Linked DNA regions of Homo sapiens. The protein of the gene in region 1 interacts with the protein of each later gene in a biochemical or structural test. Each region holds a gene or a part of one and is shown in the gene's direction. Other genes may lie near its edges. The genes, in order: USP21, NANOG and ISG15.

Region 1 (3,747 bases):
ATGATCTATGTGTAAATCACCATGGCACGTTTACCTATGTAACAAACCTATACATCCTGCATGTGTACCTCTGAACTTAAAAGATGTAAGGAAAAAAAAAAAAAGGAAGAACTTTGGAGGCAGAGATTTTCCCAGGGTCTGCTGGCCTAGTGGGGTGCCAGGCCCTCCTTTGCTGAGCCTAAGCAAAGTACTTAGCTGAACTTGTTCTCAATTCTGATCACTAGTAGTCTTCCTATGCCCCCAAGAGGCTGCTGTGCTTTATGGTAAACTTTGCATGTCAACACCTTCTTCATGTCCCTCTCATAGGGGTGGCAAAATATGCCTGACGGATCATTTCAAACCTTTGTGGGCCAGGAATGTGCCCAAATTTGGACTAGCTCATCTCATGGCTCTGGGGGTAAGTTTTGTGTATTTGGCATAAAAGGAGAAAGAGGGACTTAGGCCCTGAGCAGTACAAGAAAAGCAGCTAAGAATAAAAGGAATAACAGTGATGTCCCTTAAGCATGTTCCCCCAGAATCTGTCTCCAGGAAGGAGCTTCTAATGGAACAAGAAGCATTGACTGGTAGTAATCTCACAGGATTTTCCTTGTATTGCAGCTGGGTCCATGGCTGGCAGTGGAAATCCCTGATCTGATTCAGAAGGGCGTCATCCAACACAAAGAGAAATGCAACCAATGAAGAATCAAGCCACTGAGGCAGGGCAGAGGGACCTTTGATAGGCTACGATACTATTTTCCTGTGCATCACACTTAACTCATCTAACTGCTTCCCCGGACACCCTCCACCTCTAGTTGTTACTAAGTAGCTGCAGTAGGCATTGCTGGGGAAGAAACAAACACACACCAAACAGTACTGCTACTTAGTTTCTAAGGCTGCACAGGGAAGGGAAAGACTGGGCTTTGGACAATCTAGAGGTAATTTATATCCGCCCCCAGGTGGAGCAACATGCGATTCTGGAGGCACGGGGGTAACTGAAAGTGAGTACATATAGTCTTTCTGGTTTCTGGAGATAACCCATCAATAAAAGCTGCTTCCTCTGGTAGCCTGTGGTTCTCATTGGGAGCTGTTAACAGAGGGCAAGTGGGCTGAAACCTGAGGCACATGAACAGCTACGCCGGGTTGGGTTGGGAAAGAGTCGGAAATAGGGGATGCTCTGGTCAGGAGTGGGAATGAAATGTTGACTGTTCCCCCTGCTGCTCAGATCTACCTTTGTCCTTTAGTGGTGAGCCATGCTTTGCCCTACCGTGTTAGCCTGCAAGAAGTGGTTTTGCCGGACCAGCACTTCCCGCCCTCCAGGGATCTTCCCAGCCCTCTGTGAAGTGCTAGATGCTTCTCCACTGGTCTGCGGGCTGGACCCAGGCCTGCAGTTTGCCATACTTGCGCCCCTGCTGTTTGGGAAGGATCTGTGCTGTAAGCCTCGCGGCCATACTACGACTGTCAGATCTCCATCCCTATGGGCTATAGGATGGGGCGACGGCACCCTATACCTCAGGGACTTGCTTTGGAGTCATGGATTAAAGACCTCTCTGGGCAGCGTTGAGAACCAGCGACCCTAAACTTGGCTGCGTTTCCATGGTGTCGATCGCGGAGCCGTGGGGGCGGGCTCACGCAAGCGCCAAGGGACCGGTGGGAGGAGTTCGGGTGTGGATGCGCAGGCGCTTTGAGAGACGGTGAAGCCGGTGGCCGGTGGCCGGGCGGGACCAACAAAGATGGCGGCGGCCCCTGCGGCGGGAGCGATCTGGGCAACGGCTGCGGCTAAAGCTGCAGCCGGGCCCACGGGGGGGCTGCACGGGGGTAGTAGGGGGTGGCCCTGAACTGGGGCCTGGCCCTGGCTGGCCTCTCCCGCCGCCTCACTGGGGGACAGGTACGGGCCGGGGCGTTATGGCATGGCGGGGTGTGGGGGGGCGCAGAGGGAAGACTGCTCCAGACCCGAGAGGACACTCTCCACAAAGGCGCGTGGGGCCCGGCGGGGCCTGGGAGAACTGGGCTGGAGGGACAGCATCCCTGGACCGCGGGGAATACGCCGCCGGATTCCGTAGCCAATCAGCGGTCTCGGCCTTTCTGCCCTCGAGGGGGGCGGACCCGGCTAAAGCCCTGCTGTGGTGGGAGAAGTGCAGAGATTAAGGGTCAAGGAGTTGTTCGTCCTCCATCCCCGACTACTGCTTTCTGAACCTCGACACCATGTCGGAGGTCGGAGGTGGGGGAGGGAATGGATCGTAAGTCACCCATATAGTCTGCTTCATTTGCAGCCCAGAGAGGCAGGGATTCGAGGATGGAGGGCTGTCTTTTGGGCTGTTATTCTTGCATCTACACTACCATTTGGCTAGGGTCTTAAGTGACCCGAGGCACATCCTACTTTACTAGCCGGGTATGGGGTCCCATGTTACGTTAGAGCCGAGATAGGAGTTATCACTGGCTTTTCAGTAAAGATGTGTTCTGCAGGGAGGGGTCGGGAGTATAGAAAGGGTCAAAGCCATGGGCTGCTTATCTTTCATTCATTTGTTTACCCAATAGATACTAAGTATTTACTTTGTACCAAACACGATGCCAGGTACTGGGGATACGATGGCTGATTCGATAGATCTGGTTCCTGCCCTCAGTGCGTATACTGCTCCCCACTTTCGTTGATGTGGTAGTGGTGATGACTGAGCCAACCACCTAATGTGGAAATGAGAGGACAGCAAGATTGTGGGTATGGAATGGGGCAAAGCAATAAGGGAAAATTAGTGTGGCAGGGTTCAGTACAGCAGCCTGGGTTCCCATTTCCCCCCATATTCAAATGCTGACACTCTCTTCTCCTCCCAGGTCCAGCCTGTGGTGTCCACAATGCCCCAGGCCTCTGAGCACCGCCTGGGCCGTACCCGAGAGCCACCTGTTAATATCCAGCCCCGAGTGGGATCCAAGCTACCATTTGCCCCCAGGGCCCGCAGCAAGGAGCGCAGAAACCCAGCCTCTGGGCCAAACCCCATGTTACGACCTCTGCCTCCCCGGCCAGGTCTGCCTGATGAACGGCTCAAGAAACTGGAGCTGGGACGGGGACGGACCTCAGGCCCTCGTCCCAGAGGCCCCCTTCGAGCAGATCATGGGGTTCCCCTGCCTGGCTCACCACCCCCAACAGTGGCTTTGCCTCTCCCATCTCGGACCAACTTAGCCCGTTCCAAGTCTGTGAGCAGTGGGGACTTGCGTCCAATGGGGATTGCCTTGGGAGGGCACCGTGGCACCGGAGAGCTTGGGGCTGCACTGAGCCGCTTGGCCCTCCGGCCTGAGCCACCCACTTTGAGACGTAGCACTTCTCTCCGCCGCCTAGGGGGCTTTCCTGGACCCCCTACCCTGTTCAGCATACGGACAGAGCCCCCTGCTTCCCATGGCTCCTTCCACATGATATCCGCCCGGTCCTCTGAGCCTTTCTACTCTGATGACAAGATGGTGAGGACTTGCCACACACATGGCCTTCATGCCCATGTTCCTCTGTGCTTTCCTGCCATCCTCTGCCTTTTCTGTCCCCCATTTCCCTGAAGTTCCTTTCTCAGCCCTTCATTACAGCAGTTTGGACATGCCTCTCCCTTGCTTAAATACCCTTGAGCCTCCTAGACCCTTTTTTGGGTTGTTGGTGACTCTTCAGCATGGTGTGCCATTTCGGTCCCCAGGGGATTACCCCAACTATTTAGAATTCTTCTTTGGGTCCCCAGGCCCTTCCTTTCCCTTGCTTGCACCTTCTCTACTGGGACTCTGCCTAGGCCTAATTAA
Region 2 (3,747 bases), on another chromosome or scaffold:
ATCTCCATTCTGACCTATTAACACCCAGTGTGGGAGCTTTTGAGCATCAGTTTAAAGCAAAAGGTGGTAGCGCCGGCCTGATGAGGTGGCTCACACCTGTAATCTCAGTACTTCGGGAGGCCGAGGCAGGCGGATCACGAGGTCAGGAGTTCGAGACCAGCCTCACCAACATTGAGAAACCCTGTCTCTACTAAAAATACAAAATTAGCCAGGCGTGATGGTGCCTGCCTGTAATCCCAGCTACTCAGGAGGCTGAGGCAGGAGAATCGCTTGAACCCAGGAGATGGAGGTTGCAGTGAGCCGAGATTGCACCATCGCACTTCAGCCTGGGCAACAAGAGTGAACCTCCATCCTAATTTTAAAAAAAAGGGGTAGCGCCGCTCAGCAATGCATTGGCCACCATTATAGATCTCTCCCAACGCAGTCTATTATGTACAAAATGGAGATACTGATAAGACTTCTTGGAGTAATACTATATAAAGCTTGCCAAAGTGCCAGGGCTGCTTAAGAAATTGCTTCTTATTACTTAGATCTGGGGTTCTGGGAATTATCAAAGTACTTTGAAAACAATTTTTTTAAAGGATATTTTAATATTTGAAAAATTTTAGACAAAAGTGTCCTTTTATTTGTTCCCAACAGTCTCTCCTCTTCCTTCCTCCATGGATCTGCTTATTCAGGACAGCCCTGATTCTTCCACCAGTCCCAAAGGCAAACAACCCACTTCTGCAGAGAAGAGTGTCGCAAAAAAGGAAGACAAGGTCCCGGTCAAGAAACAGAAGACCAGAACTGTGTTCTCTTCCACCCAGCTGTGTGTACTCAATGATAGATTTCAGAGACAGAAATACCTCAGCCTCCAGCAGATGCAAGAACTCTCCAACATCCTGAACCTCAGCTACAAACAGGTAGGCTTGTTTTGTCCTTGGAATAAGGTGAACAAAAATTGGACTAATTTGCATGGCTAAGACCTCTGTGGATGCATGTAGATGTGTGTACTATGTGTCCGTACATCGCCTCTTGCAAATAATTTATGAAGATGAAATGCTTTTGTAACTTCCTTCACCTCTTTCTTTCCTTAAATATTCTATTATGTGAATAATTATGTCATAATTTAACCACTTTCTTGCACAGACCAATATTGTGAAAATCTTTCCAACGTTTCCTTAATAAAAAAGAAGTATCTAACTCCACTTACCAGGGTAGGAGAAACCCTAACTCACACTGGTTCTCATTAAAATAAAAACTTTTTTTTTCCTTTTTTTCTTTCTGCCAGCAACTCCAGCTTGTTTTGTTTTTTATCTGTGTGCATTCAATAAGGCCAATCATTGTTTATTACTTGTTGGCCATTTTCCTTCATTAATTGGCTTATCCTCTTCTAGGCTTTATTTCCTTCTTTTCTTTTGTTTATTTTTGAGACGGAGTCTCACTCTGTCTCCCAGGCTGGAGTGCAGTGGCCTCATAATGAGACATCATAATGACATTAGCATTACTTGGTTTAAGTACAAATGGATGAAACCTCCACCTCCTGGGTTCAAGGGATTCTCCTGCCTCAGCCTCCCAAGTAGCTGGGATTACAGGCGCCCGCCACTACACCTGGCTAATTTTACTGTATTTTTTAGTAGAGATGGGGCTTCACCATGTTGGCCAGGCTGGTTTTCAACTCCTGACCTCAAGTGATCCACGTGCCTCTGCCTCCTAAAGTGCTAGGATTACAGGTGTGAACTACCACACCCGGCCCTTGCCTTTATTTTCTATCCAAAATGTTCATTTCTCTCTTTTTTTCTGAGACAGTCTGGTTCTGTTGTCACGCAGCTGGAGTGCAGTGATGCAATCTTGGCTCACTGCAGCCTTCACTTCCCAGGTGCAAGCGATCCTCCCGTCTCAGCCTCCTGAGAAGCTGGGACCACAGACGTGCAGCATTACACCCGGCTAATTTTTTGTATTTTTGTAGACACGGTGTTTCCTCATGTTGGCTAGCCTGTAGCGAACTCCTGGGCTCAAGCAATCTGCCCGCCTTGGCCTTCCAAAGTGTTGGGATTACAGGCATGAGATATGGCACCTGGCCAGGAATAAAAGTTAGCAATATACTTTGATTCAAAGTACCTCTGTATTATGAATATTTTACAATTTCTATCATTTTTTCCTGCAGGTGAAGACCTGGTTCCAGAACCAGAGAATGAAATCTAAGAGGTGGCAGAAAAACAACTGGCCGAAGAATAGCAATGGTGTGACGCAGGTAACAGGAAACTTCATTCTGTTCTTTCCTTTCAGTGATCTTTCAATCTTGTCCATCCCTGAAACACACAACTCCAGTCACAGACAGTTCTGGTTGTCCTTGTACCCTTTCTGTTAATCCCTCCTTCTCTTTCAGAAGGCCTCAGCACCTACCTACCCCAGCCTTTACTCTTCCTACCACCAGGGATGCCTGGTGAACCCGACTGGGAACCTTCCAATGTGGAGCAACCAGACCTGGAACAATTCAACCTGGAGCAACCAGACCCAGAACATCCAGTCCTGGAGCAACCACTCCTGGAACACTCAGACCTGGTGCACCCAATCCTGGAACAATCAGGCCTGGAACAGTCCCTTCTATAACTGTGGAGAGGAATCTCTGCAGTCCTGCATGCAGTTCCAGCCAAATTCTCCTGCCAGTGACTTGGAGGCTGCCTTGGAAGCTGCTGGGGAAGGCCTTAATGTAATACAGCAGACCACTAGGTATTTTAGTACTCCACAAACCATGGATTTATTCCTAAACTACTCCATGAACATGCAACCTGAAGACGTGTGAAGATGAGTGAAACTGATATTACTCAATTTCAGTCTGGACACTGGCTGAATCCTTCCTCTCCCCTCCTCCCATCCCTCATAGGATTTTTCTTGTTTGGAAACCACGTGTTCTGGTTTCCATGATGCCCATCCAGTCAATCTCATGGAGGGTGGAGTATGGTTGGAGCCTAATCAGCGAGGTTTCTTTTTTTTTTTTTTTCCTATTGGATCTTCCTGGAGAAAATACTTTTTTTTTTTTTTTTTTTGAAACGGAGTCTTGCTCTGTCGCCCAGGCTGGAGTGCAGTGGCGCGGTCTTGGCTCACTGCAAGCTCCGTCTCCCGGGTTCACGCCATTCTCCTGCCTCAGCCTCCCGAGCAGCTGGGACTACAGGCGCCCGCCACCTCGCCCGGCTAATATTTTGTATTTTTAGTAGAGACGGGGTTTCACTGTGTTAGCCAGGATGGTCTCGATCTCCTGACCTTGTGATCCACCCGCCTCGGCCTCCCTAACAGCTGGGATTTACAGGCGTGAGCCACCGCGCCCTGCCTAGAAAAGACATTTTAATAACCTTGGCTGCCGTCTCTGGCTATAGATAAGTAGATCTAATACTAGTTTGGATATCTTTAGGGTTTAGAATCTAACCTCAAGAATAAGAAATACAAGTACAAATTGGTGATGAAGATGTATTCGTATTGTTTGGGATTGGGAGGCTTTGCTTATTTTTTAAAAACTATTGAGGTAAAGGGTTAAGCTGTAACATACTTAATTGATTTCTTACCGTTTTTGGCTCTGTTTTGCTATATCCCCTAATTTGTTGGTTGTGCTAATCTTTGTAGAAAGAGGTCTCGTATTTGCTGCATCGTAATGACATGAGTACTGCTTTAGTTGGTTTAAGTTCAAATGAATGAAACAACTATTTTTCCTTTAGTTGATTTTACCCTGATTTCACCGAGTGTTTCAATGAGTAAATATACAGCTTAAAC
Region 3 (3,747 bases), about 160 Mb from region 1:
GGTCTCGAACTCCTGATCTCAAATGATCCTCCCGCCTCAGCCTCCCGAAATGCCGGCATTACAGGCATGAGCCGCCTGGCCTGGATAGATGTTTATGATACACTGTTGCATGAATGAAGCAGGTTACAAAACAGTGAAAGTATGGTGAGGCCTTTTCACCTTTGCTTTTTATTGATGTGAAATTCATATAACATAAAACTAACCATTTTAAAGAATGAAATCCAGTGGCGTTTAGTTATTTACCACGTTGTCCAACCATCACCTCTGTGGAGTTCTGAAACATTGTCACCCCCAAAGGGGCTTGTGGCTCTGAAGCAATCACCCCCCACTCCCCCTCCCTGGCCCCCGGTAACGGGGTCGGCTTCCTGTGCTGCGGCTCTACCAGTTCCGGTCGTTTCCCCTGCGGTGAATGGAACCAACACTCTGCGGCCTTCGTGTCTGGCTCTTTCCACTTAGCATAACGTTTTCAAGGTTCTTTCACATGAATCAGTGCCTCAGTCCTTTTCATGGCTGCATAATATTCCGTTGTGTGGACATTCCACACTTTGTGTGTCCATCCATCACTGATGGACATGTGCTCCGTTCCTGCTACTTGTTTATTGTAAACTGTGCTGCCATGGACATTTGTATGCAAGTATTTGAACACCTATTTTCAATTCTTTTGGACACATGCCTAGAAGTGGAACTGCTGGGTTCCCAATAATTCTGTTGAACGTTTTGAGCATCGCGGCGGCCGCACTGTTTTACATTCTCAACAGCAATGCATGTACCAGGATTCCAGTTCCTCTATGTATTCCCCAGTGCTTGTTACTGCCTTTATGTTTATTTTATATTATTTTTTGAGACTGTCTTGCTCTGCTGCCCAGGCTGGAGTGCATTGGTGCAATCTTGGCTCACCACAATCTCTGCCTCCTGGGTTCAAGGGATTCTCCCGCCTCAGCCTCCCAAGTAGCTGGGATTACAGGCGTGCACCACCACGCCCAGCTAATTTTTGTATTTTTAGTAGAGATGGGGTTTCTACTAAAAATGTTGGCCAGGCTGGTCTCAAACTCCTGACCTTAGGTGATCCGCCCGCCTCAGCCTCCCAAAGTGTTGGGATTGCAGGCGTGAGCCACCGCACCCGGCCTGGCCTTTATTTTTATTATTACAGTCATACCAGCAGGAAATAGCATCTCACTGGGGTTTTGATTTGCATTTCCCCAATTAATAATGATGTTGAACATCACTTTACAGCCGTTTCTATGTCATTGGAGAAATGTCTATTGAAGTCTTTTGGCCATTTGAAAATTGAGTTGCCTTTTTTTTTTATTTTTATTTTTTATTGAGTTGTAAGAGTTCTCTATATGTCCTGGATGCTATGCCCTCATCAGATAGATAATTTGCAAATATTTCTTCCCATTCTATGGATTGTCTTTTCACTTTCTCAATAGTGTCCCAGAGTTCATTTTTGTAGAAAATAAAAGATAGGTCTCTTTTATTAAAAAACAATCTGAGGCTCCGGGTGCAGTGGCTCACGCCTGTAATCCCAGCAGTTTCAGAGGCCGAGGCAGGTGGATCACTTGAGCCCAGGAGTTCGAGATCAGCCTGGGCGACATGGCGAGACCCCCATCTCTACTAAAAATACAAAAAATTAGCCGGGCCTGGTGGTGCACCCCTGTGGTCCCAGCTACGTGGGAGGCTGAGGTGAGAGGATCGCTTTAGCCTGGCAGGCGGAGGTTGCAATGAGATGAGATCGTGCCTCTGCACTCCAGCCTGGGCGACAGAGTGAGAGACCCTGTCTCAAAAACACAAAAACAACAACAAAAAAACACCAATCTGAGCAAATACTGCCCTAAACCGAGTGTTGTTATCTCTGGGTAGTTTGGAGTTCTTGTTTCTCAATTAACCATGGGGATGTTTTCCAAGTTTACTAATTTTGCAAGTTGGTAAATGGAAAATGAAACCATTAGTCCATGTGATGACAGCTTTAGTGCATCCTGTGAAGGATCTGGAATGCGCGATATTTAGGTGTTTCCAGGGTGTTGGGTGGGGGTGGGGATGCCGTCCGCTGTCCGGAGTCCCCGCCACTTTTGCTTTTCCCTGTCTTTCGGTCATTCGGTTTTGTTTCTTCCGCTCACTCTGGGGCATGCCTCGGGAAAGGGAAACCGAAACTGAAGCCAAATTTGGCCACCAGCGCAGGCTCGGCGGCACGCCCCCTGACGTGTGTGCCTCAGGCTTATAATAGGGCCGGTGCTGCCTGCCGAAGCCGGCGGCTGAGAGGCAGCGAACTCATCTTTGCCAGTACAGGAGCTTGTGCCGTGGCCCACAGCCCACAGCCCACAGCCATGGTAAGGCAGATGTCACAGGTGGGGGGAGGTGGGCTCTGTGCCAGCCAATTTTCGTCTCCCTCCCCCAGCCAAGGTCTCCCAGGGGTGCAGGGAGAGCGGAGCTGCTCAGAGCTTGGCCAGGTTCTAAGTGTGCTCCTGAAAGCAGGTCACCCCTGAGATCCTCAGGGTGGGGCACAGAGGGGCACCCTAGCAGGTAAAGGGAGGCCACGGGATGGCGGTGGGCAGCTGGCCTTCTAGTAACGAGCCCTCAGTGCCTTCTGTGCCTGGGGTCCCTGCCGGCGGGATGTAGAGGACAGACAGGAGGGAGCACTGTCCCTGGGTACAGGAGCTCGCCCTGCAGCCAGTGCCTTGTGTGTGGTGGGCCTGGGGCTGGCGCCGCAGTCTCTGAACCTGTGTGACGCCTGCAGGGCTGGGACCTGACGGTGAAGATGCTGGCGGGCAACGAATTCCAGGTGTCCCTGAGCAGCTCCATGTCGGTGTCAGAGCTGAAGGCGCAGATCACCCAGAAGATCGGCGTGCACGCCTTCCAGCAGCGTCTGGCTGTCCACCCGAGCGGTGTGGCGCTGCAGGACAGGGTCCCCCTTGCCAGCCAGGGCCTGGGCCCCGGCAGCACGGTCCTGCTGGTGGTGGACAAATGCGACGAACCTCTGAGCATCCTGGTGAGGAATAACAAGGGCCGCAGCAGCACCTACGAGGTACGGCTGACGCAGACCGTGGCCCACCTGAAGCAGCAAGTGAGCGGGCTGGAGGGTGTGCAGGACGACCTGTTCTGGCTGACCTTCGAGGGGAAGCCCCTGGAGGACCAGCTCCCGCTGGGGGAGTACGGCCTCAAGCCCCTGAGCACCGTGTTCATGAATCTGCGCCTGCGGGGAGGCGGCACAGAGCCTGGCGGGCGGAGCTAAGGGCCTCCACCAGCATCCGAGCAGGATCAAGGGCCGGAAATAAAGGCTGTTGTAAAGAGAAATGGCCGCCTCTGTGTCTGTGCTTGCCCCTCCTCCAGCGTCCGCCTCAGACCCCTGGTGATGGGGCGGGAGAAGTCAGGAGGGAGAACCCAGGGTCCATCCTGGTGACCAGGCCTGGGCTGCCAAGTGAAGGGATAAGGGTTTGCAGTTACAGCTTCGAGGGATCAAAATAGGGAGCCCCCCACCCCGAAACTGAAGTAAGACAGCTCTCCCCACCCTTTGGGAAATTAACTTCTAGGAAAAGAAAAAGAGACACAGTTGCTGGAGCCCATCCTGCCTGTCCTCCATCTGGGACAGCAGACGGCTTAGGCAGGGACCCGCCTGATCAGATCAAAAGGGGAGGCTCCCAGTGGGCCCCTGGGAGCAGTAAGGGGTGAGTCCTTGGGGCCTGCCCGGTGGGCTGTGAGGCAGGCTCTCCATAGGAACTGGGGGCTGGGGACCTCAGCCGTCCCTAGCCC

Evidence for each region.
Region 2: the proteins of USP21 (region 1) and NANOG form a complex in vitro, tested with the Homo sapiens proteins (3 studies listed by BioGRID, with this or other methods).
Region 3: the proteins of USP21 (region 1) and ISG15 form a complex in vitro, tested with the Homo sapiens proteins (2 studies listed by BioGRID, with this or other methods).

The regions. Positions count from the first base shown.
Region 1 is NC_000001.11:161,157,815-161,161,561, forward strand, and holds the start of USP21 (ubiquitin carboxyl-terminal hydrolase 21), read left to right. Parts: upstream 1-1,685; 5' UTR 1,686-1,864; exon of another isoform or gene 1,865-1,886; coding exon of another isoform or gene 1,887-1,952; exon of another isoform or gene 1,953-2,551; 5' UTR 2,552-2,692; exon of another isoform or gene 2,693-2,805; coding exon of another isoform or gene 2,806-2,826; coding exon 2,827-3,426; intron 3,427-3,747. Other genes in the region: UFC1 (ubiquitin-fold modifier-conjugating enzyme 1), read left to right, coding at 307-397, 598-678. UniProt on the Homo sapiens protein: Deubiquitinates histone H2A, a specific tag for epigenetic transcriptional repression, thereby acting as a coactivator.
Region 2 is NC_000012.12:7,792,311-7,796,057, forward strand, and holds part of NANOG (homeobox protein NANOG), read left to right. Parts: intron 1-639; coding exon 640-902; intron 903-2,146; coding exon 2,147-2,233; intron 2,234-2,368; coding exon 2,369-2,785; 3' UTR 2,786-3,747. UniProt on the Homo sapiens protein: Transcription regulator involved in inner cell mass and embryonic stem (ES) cells proliferation and self-renewal. Imposes pluripotency on ES cells and prevents their differentiation towards extraembryonic endoderm and trophectoderm lineages.
Region 3 is NC_000001.11:1,011,250-1,014,996, forward strand, and holds ISG15 (ubiquitin-like protein ISG15), read left to right. Parts: upstream 1-2,247; 5' UTR 2,248-2,324; coding exon 2,325-2,327; intron 2,328-2,734; coding exon 2,735-3,229; 3' UTR 3,230-3,291; downstream 3,292-3,747.